2 separate regions of the Homo sapiens genome follow, and region 1 is linked to region 2. The links come from fine-mapping of genetic effects on gene expression. A gene starts in region 2. The other region holds a variant in brackets. All regions are shown on one strand. Distances are between the middles of the regions.

Region 1 (4,000 bases), 38 kb after region 2:
CAAACTCCATGAGAGCAAGGGTTTTGTTTGTGGTGTTCATTGCTGTTATCCCCAGCCAATAGAACAGTGCCTGGTACATAGCAGACACTCAATAAATGTTTATTGAATTAATGAGTAAATCTTAAATCTAAATGGAGGAAGTAAACTGAGAAATATTAATACAAATTAAAAACCCCTCTGTACATTGCAACCTTTTCTAAACCCCTCTGAATATAGCTCCTCTCTTATCACTATAACTACCACATCCCATAATTAGCAGTGGGATTGTTATTAGCAGAAATAGATGTGAGCTTCACCTAAATCTCAGTTTGTCTTCAGGCAAGTGGAGAATGAAGGAACATCCATTTCTTCAGGTCATCTTGCTTTCTCTTGTGGGCTCTTGGCATCTTGCAAGTCAGTGCCTGCTGAATAACACCTAAAATGGCCTTTGGAATCCTCTTACTGCTTGAGAACAAGGATGCTGCCCAGACCCATAAGCATCTACCCAATGCCCAGCATTAGAAGATGAGACCTCCAGAGTAAAGATGGGAATAGGCCCCTTCCAACCTTGTAAAGCCTGGGACAAAAGAAAACTAAGAACTATTCTAAGATATTTCAGAATATTAGAAAGTAAAACAAAACAAAACACAATACAAAACAAAACACTACCTTTGTGTCAAAGATTGGGGTAAATGTTCCAGGGTAGCCTGTTTGTAGATTGTATATCTCACTCAATTCCATTGGCCCAAGCACAGATGGCAGAAGTGAAAAGCCCAAAGTCTGCAAACACCTCTACTGCAAAGTGCCCATATATGCATGCTATCCTACAACCAGAATAGAGTATCCTCAGCTCACTGAACTTACCATAGTGTTACATGACTCCTTGGCAATGAGCAGGATACTATTTGGCTGAAAGCACCCTCTCTCCATCTCTACCCCCAATGTAGGCTTGGCAAATTCTGGTTATCTTCCATAATAATTACCATTTACATTATAATTTTAAAAACACACTCACCTAAGTGGAGCTGCTCTTTCCATAGTTTTTCTCTCTTTCTGGCTTTACGACTCTACAACTTCCAAAAAAAAAAGTCATCTACTCCTCCATTCCCCGACAAAAACTTTTTGAAAACACACATACACACATGAAAAAAATGTTTAAAGATAATTTGTCTTGTGTTAAGGATCTAATTTTTTCAGGAGTTCTGTGTGCTATTTCCTTCCACATTAAAGAATGATCCTGATTACAGAGGTAATAAACCCCCAGGTATGTAATGTACCATCGGGAAGTAACTGAGGCCCCCTAAGGGAGCAACTCAAGTATATGGCTGAGGGACCATTTTTGTTGTAGGACTTTCTCCTTAGTTCAGCTAAAAACAGGGTCCTTGTCACACGACCATGAAAAATTAGGCTTGCAGACACTTTGAAGGGCGAGAAGGGCAGGGTTTATTGGGTGAAAAGGAAAAAAGGTGGGGAAACAGGGACTTTCAGCAAAGCGAGAGAGTGTACTTCCTGCCAGTGGGCTCACAAATTAAATCCAGGTTACCAACCCCGGAATAGGAGAATCCAGACTCTTCCTCCCTGCAAATGGCAGGAACTTCCCAAGGATTCACCTCATTCACCCAGTATGCAGCCCAGTTGGAGTTTCTCCAGGGACCCTTTTACACCTGGCTGTCTCATTCCCCCCTCTGCAGAAGTACATCTAACTGCTGTTAAAATAAGGATAAGGATAAGGACGAAGACCGATCTTAACTGCTTCCTGCTGACAGGGGGCGCTGTTCTGGGGGAATGGCA[T/G]TGGAGCTCCCTCAGAGGTCTAGCTAGCTAAGGGTACCCGGCAGAAAGGGCCATCCTCCAAAGCTCCAGTTGCATGACCATTTGGAGTTTGATAGCCTGAAGGTGAGAAGAGACAAACCAGGTTATTAGAAAACACGTATCAAAACGAGAAAAAAGGGATGGGTAAGGACACATCAAAAATCCCAAGGCCTTTTACCAGTTTGCACAGGGAGAGGGAGGCCAAAAGCCCGACTGTAAAAAAAACTTTTACCCTTTTGCCAGCATATCAAGCTTCTGGGTTCCCTTCCCCTGAGCCCAATCCTAAGCCAACCAGTCTAAGGTTTGGGAAATTAACTTTTCCCAGTTTGGAGGATGCATCTGACAGGAGTGTCCTGAGTACAGAGACAAAATTACCTATCAGTGAAGAGAGGAAAGAGGAGGAAAAAAGAAGGCTTTCACTGCAAGCCTCCCAGGTTTAAGCGATTCTCCCGCCTCAGCTTCCAGAGTAGTTGGGACTACAGGCACACGCCACCACACCCAGCTAATTTTTATATGTTTAATAGAGATGGGGTCTCACTATGTTGGCCAGGATGGTCTTGATCTTTTGACCTCGTGATCTGCCCGCCTTGGCCTCCCAAAGTGCTGGGATTACAGGCGTCCAGGCACCGCGCCCAGCCAAGGAGGCTTTTTTAAAAAAGGAGTCCCAGGGGTTCAGGATGCATTCAAAAGGGGTATAGATTGAAGATGAATGGCTACCCATCTAGAAAGACGGGAGCAGGCATCCCTGGTTCCCTTCTCTTCCTAGCAATACCTGGGGTATGTGAAGGAGAGAAGGAAGAGTGTCCTCTTTCCCTCTTCTGTCCTTGAATCATCAAGTCCCAGTGAACTTAGCAGGTGCCATCCATAGGTGCCAAAGTAGCTTGCACCCATGAAGCAGGGAGGGCCTAGATAATAGGAATTAGCTGCTCTCACCTATGTCTCTATCCCACCTACTATCAGTAGCCTTGGAGTTCCCTAGACCTCATTTATGCCATGGATACTAGCATGACCCTTATCCATGAAATGGGAGGCTTGGCTTTATTGGCAGGAATTAGCCCTGCTTACCTGCACTGTCTTTTAACCTCTGTTGTTGTCTGCCTCTGGATTCCTTAGATCCAGTTTTCTTTCCTAGGGCTTTGACCTGAAGCTTGGAATTGAGTTTGGGAAAAAATGTGTCTTGGTAGGGGTACATGGACTCCTTATCAGAAGCCAAATGCTGAGGTGAAGGTGTGGAATTGAATCCTCCTCCAACAAGGGAGAGAAAAGCATGTCTTGTGACATGCCCAAATAACTGGTGGCTATAGTTATGCTTGCTAAGATTTGGGTGCATGGTGCTTGGCTTTGGTTAGCTCCCTTGGTCTTCCTTTCCCAGAAAGGAAACCTCTGCGTGATGAGTATCCTGTTTATTTCCATCACCTGGCAGGATTTGCAGGATAATTGCTCAGAACTAGAATATTGATCCAGATTTTTACATTACCCATCCCTTTTGTTCTTTCTGAGCTGCAGCTGGAGATTGCTTGGTTGGTTGATTGATTGGTTGGTTCACAGGAACAAGCAGGGGTAGTCTAAAAATATAAACAAAAAAAACAACTAATGAGTTTAGAATTTAATGACAAATGTATGATGAGTTTTGAAATATAATTTCTCTCTCCAGTCCTCATTTTTGTTAAAAAACAATCATGATAGGACTGAGTTGTTTGCAAAACAGATTATTTGCATAAAGTACAGCAAGAATCACTATTTCTACATAGGCTAGATTTTAGTCTTTTTTTTTTTTTTTTTTTTTTGAGACAGAGTCTTGCTCTGTGACCCAGGCTGGAGTGCAGTGGCATGATCTCGGCTCACTGCAACCTCCACCTCCCGGATTCAAGAGATTCTCCTGCCTCAGCCTCCCCAGGCTGGGACTGTAGGTGCGTGACACCATGCCCAGCTAATTTTTTGTATTTTTAGTAGAGACGGGGTTTCACTGTGTTTCGATCTCCTGACCTCGTGATCCATCTGCCTTGGCCTCCCAAAGTGCTGGGATTACAGGAGTGAGCAAATACACTGTATTTTCTTTCTAATCAGTATTTTCTTTCTTTCTTTCTTTTTTTTTTTTTTTTTTTTTTTGAGACGGAGTCTCGCTCTGTCGCCCAGGCTGGAGTGCAGTGGCGCTATCTCGGCTCACTGCAAGCTCCGCCTCCCAGATTCACGCCATTCTCCTGCCTCAGCC
Region 2 (4,461 bases):
CTATTGCAAAGACTTCCTAAGTGGCCTTCATGCCCACTGTTGCCCCTCTTCTGTCCATTGTCTAGACTGCATCTAGTGATACCTTGTCAGAAGTGATCACGTCTTCTCACTTCTGTAAGTCATTCAATGACTTTCTGGTGGTCTTTACTATGGACTGACTTACGTGCACCCAAAATTCATATGTTGAAGCCCTAATCTCCAATGTGACTAAATGTGGAGATTAGGTCTTTACGAAGTAATTAAGTTTAAATGAGGTCATAAGGGTGAGTGAGGTTAATAGGACTGAGGCCTTATAAGAAGAGGGAGATCTCTTTCATCCTCTCCTCCCACCCCCTTTCCCTGCTATATGAGGACACAGCAAGAAGGTAGCCATCTTGCAAGCAGGAAGAAGACCCTCACCAGAACCTGGTCTCAGATTTCTAGCCATCAGAACTGAGAAAATTAATTTCTGCTGTGTAAAGTCACCCAGTCTATATTATTTTGTTGCATACAGGCTAATACAGTCTTTTTATAACAATTAAATTATTAAGAATGGAGTGACTATCACCTACTAACCCAGCCTTATTTTATACTATGCTCCATACCACCCCCATTCCCCAGTCTCTGATTCCAGCCCACAGAGCATCATTTCATGTTCTGGAACACCATATAGCCTTTTTCTTTTTTGAGACGGAGTTTCACCCTTGTTGCCCAGGCTGGAATGCAATGGCGCGATCTTGGCTCACTGCAACCTCTGCCTCCCAGGTTCAAGCAATTCTCCTGCCTCAGCCTCCCGAGTAGCTGAGATGACAGGCATCTACCACCATGCCCGGCTAATTTTTGTATTTTTAGTAGAGACGGGATTTCACCATGTTGGCCAGGCTGGTCTTGAACTCCTGACCTCAGATGACCCACCTGCCTCAGCCTCCCAAAGTACTGGGATTACAGGCATGAACCACGGCACCCAGCCCACATAGCCTCTTAACATGTTCATTGCAACACCTGGGACATGATTTGTTTAGCTGACTCACTCTCGTTCTTCATATTTCAGCTTGAACATCACTCCCTAGCAAAGCCTTCCCTGACTCTGACCCTACCTGACCTTTGTTTGCCGCTTCCCCTTATATGCCTTCATTGCTCATTGATTTTCCTATAAAGAAGTTTGGGTTTGTTGTTGTTGTTTTGAGATGGAGTCTCACTCTGTCGCTCAGGCTGCATTGCAGTGGCACAATCTCTGCTCACTGCAACCTCCACCCCTCAGGCCCCTGGCCCCAGGATTCAAGCACTTCTCATGCCTCAGCCTCCTGAGTACCTGAAACTACAGGCGCATACCACCACGTCCAGCTAATTTTTGTATTTTTAGTAGACACGGGGTTTCGCCATGGTGGTCAGCCTGGTCTCGAACTCCTGGCCTCAAGTAATCCAACTGCCTTAGGCTCCCAAAGTGCTGGGATTACAAGTGTGAGCTGCCACGCCCAGCCAACATTAAGGATCTTGAGAGAGAGAGAGATTGTTCTGGATCATGTTGGTGGGCCCTAAATGTAATCACAAGTATCTTTATAAGAGGGGCACAAAGGGAGATTAAACTACAGAAGGCAAGTGATGACTGAGCAGAGACTGAAATGATGTGGTCACAAATCAAGGAATGCTGGCAGCCACTTAGAAGCTGAAAAATTCCAGGCCAAGAATGGATTCTTCCCTGGAGCCTCCAGGAGGAGCTAGCCTTGTCTTTGATTTTAGCCCTGTAAGAATGGTTTTGGAATTCTGGTCTCTAGAACTATGAGAGAATAAATTCCTGTTGTTTTAACCCATTACGTTTGTGGTAATTTGTTATCACAGCAATGGGAAACTAATAAAAGGAATAAAACTGTAAATTCAAAACAATAAAATGTCTATTTCTAAAGTAATGACCTGGACAGACTGTAAAAGTTGGATATTTTTTGTAGGCATAATTTCTCAACTAGCTCTGTGCCTTGGATATTTTTAATATTTATATGTTTTCCCTAAATATTCATTTTGATTTCTCGTAGCTTTGAAGGTACCACTTGTGAGATGTCTGTATTATCTGAGGTATGTAAAGACATTGTTAAACAGTCTTTGTTTGCCTTTGTTCCAGTAAATCCTCAGCAGTTTCTAACTGGAAAAGAGGATAAAGATTTTCATCCAGATTGGGAACAAAGCAGACTTGGCCCATTGTTTCTTTTCCGCCATAGCCTAGAGATACCAGCTTACAGGATGATGTCAGATCAGTTCATGTACCTTAATTGTGTTTTTACATAAGTGTAGTTTGTACCTCTAGAGGCAACATAAAAATAAGAACTTCCAGCACCCCTGAACACAGTTGAACGTGTGGACACGTACGAGTCGGACTTCTGGTCCCTTCCTTTCATGTTAGAGAGCCACCCCTAATTTCTAGCCTACCCCTTATCTTCAGCCAGAGGAATAGCAGTGGATCCTTTCCACAGCCTACATTCTCCAGCAGCTGCCTTCATTCCGGCTTGAAAGGAACACTCTGGCAGCCCATTGGCCCAAGAGTAAGGAAATGGTTGCTTAGCAACTGACTCCTGCCCCCACCACAGTCCCTGAGAAGAGGAGCTCTTGGGCCAATCACCTAGTTTCTGCCTGTGTTACAGTGAAGAGAAGCTGCTTAAGAGAAGATGAAGCCCTTGTCTCTGTTAATAGAGATATTGATAATTCTTGGGGTCACAATTAAAAGTAAGTTTTTTTGTCCTTAGAGTTCTCTATGAGGGTCTCTTCTCTTTGCTCAAACAGCGCCAAGGGCAGAAGCCAATTAAAAGACTAGAAGTAACTTTACTATATCCCTAACTAATGCCATTTTTGTACAGGTACTTTAAAATGTCCAATAAGAATAATAGATGATAATGATAGTCTCACTTGGGATAATACTTGGGAAGGGTGTGTACTTGGGAAGGGTGTGGGGGATGGGGAAAAAACAAATCTATGAGGAAACCACTACAGTAATTGTTATAAAGTAGGGATATTTAGGGCAAGTTGTTAAGTGTTATTAAATTTAGAATATCATAAAGGTCTAGTTCCAAGACTTTAAAGGAAAAATATAAGACTCAAAGAGTGTGAAAGATGTATAAACATGCTTTTTTAAAATATTTACACAATAACAATTTCACTTCCAAAGTTTCAATGTTTCCTAAATAGTTACTATCTGAAAATGGAAGTTATTTTCCATCTTGTTTCTTTGGCCATTTTTTTAGTTACTTTTTACCCAATCCTCATATAATGTGCTCATGATAAATTCAATTTAAGAAATATGTATTTGGTCCCTGCTTGTCTAGTGGTTAGAATTCAGCACTCTCACTGCCACAGCCCAGGTTCAATTCCCTGTCAGAGAAAAGGAAAAAAAAAGAAATATTTGGATTTTACCCAGAAATGTAAGATTGGTTTACCACCCATAAATCAATGTAACAATCACATCAACAGAATAAAAGACAAAGATCACATGATCATTCTAATCTAGTAAAAGCATTTGACAAAATTCAACAGGCTTTGTGATAAAAATGTGTGACAAACTAAGAATGGAAGGAAACTTTATCAACCTGATAGAAGATATTGAAAACCCAAAGCTACTATATTTAATGGTGAAAGACTGACTGCTTCATCCCTAACATCAGGAATAAGACAAGGATGTCCACTTTTGCCATTTCTGTTCAACATTGTACTGGAAGTTCTAGCTATGGCAATTACACAAGAAACAAAAGTAGAAGATATCAAGCTTGGAAAGAAAGAAGTAAAATGATCTGTATTCACAGAAGACATGATCTTGTATACAGAAAATCGTATGGAATCAACTACGAAACTATTAGAACTAATAAATGAGCTCCATAACAAATGCAGGATAAATACAAAAAAAAAGTTCTATTTCTATACAGTAGCAGTGAGCAAACCAAAAATGAAATTATGAAAGAAACTTTATAATAGTATCAAAAATGAACTACTTAAGAATAAATTTTACAAAAAAAGTGTGAAACTCATATTCTGATGACCACAAAAATTGTTTAAAGAAGTTAAAGAAGACTTCACTACATGAAAAGACTTCCCATGTTCATGAATTGGAGAACTTAATATTGGTAAGATGGCAATACTCTCCAAATTGATCTACATATTCAACACAATCTTTATTTATTTGTTTATTTATTTATTTTGAGATGGAGTTTCGCTCTTGTTGCCCAGGCTGGAGTGCAATGACGTGATCTCGGCTCACTGCAACCTCCGCTGCCTGGGTTCAAGCCGTTCTCCTGCCTCAGCCTCCCAAGTAACTGAATTACAGTCGTCTGCCACCACGCCTGGCTAATTTTTTGTATTTTTAGTAGAGACGGGGTTTTATCATGTTGGCCAGGCTGGTCTTTAACTCCTGACCTCAGGTGATTCACCCGCCTAAGCCTGCCAAAGTGCTGGGATTACAGGAATGAATCACACCGCATCTGGGCTTCAACACAATCTTTATCA

Direction of the effects. Alleles are on the strand shown, and positions count from the first base shown. SD is a standard deviation of normalised expression in the study named.
With allele T in place of G in region 1, the expression in left ventricle of the gene that starts at base 2,557 in region 2 is lower (large effect, 0.78 SD a copy in GTEx).

What was found. PIP is the estimated chance that this variant, and not a neighbour inherited with it, causes the effect. A credible set is the group of variants that fine-mapping cannot tell apart.
Region 1: its variant is the best candidate, but not a certain one, in a credible set for the expression of SEL1L2 in left ventricle (GTEx, PIP 0.59).

The regions. Positions count from the first base shown.
Region 1 is chr20:13,951,174-13,955,173 of GRCh38, reverse strand. All of the region lies in intron 2 of SEL1L2 (SEL1L2 adaptor subunit of SYVN1 ubiquitin ligase), which reads left to right. Among named protein-coding and RNA genes, the nearest start is that of SEL1L2, 37 kb to the left of the region's middle. The variant T/G (reference allele first, on the strand shown) is at 1,771.
Region 2 is chr20:13,988,710-13,993,170 of GRCh38, reverse strand. SEL1L2 (SEL1L2 adaptor subunit of SYVN1 ubiquitin ligase) reads left to right here and starts at 2,557. Exons shown (of 20, transcript NM_025229.2): 1 at 2,557-2,694. The coding sequence starts at 2,637. It also overlaps the pseudogene TRE-CTC10-1.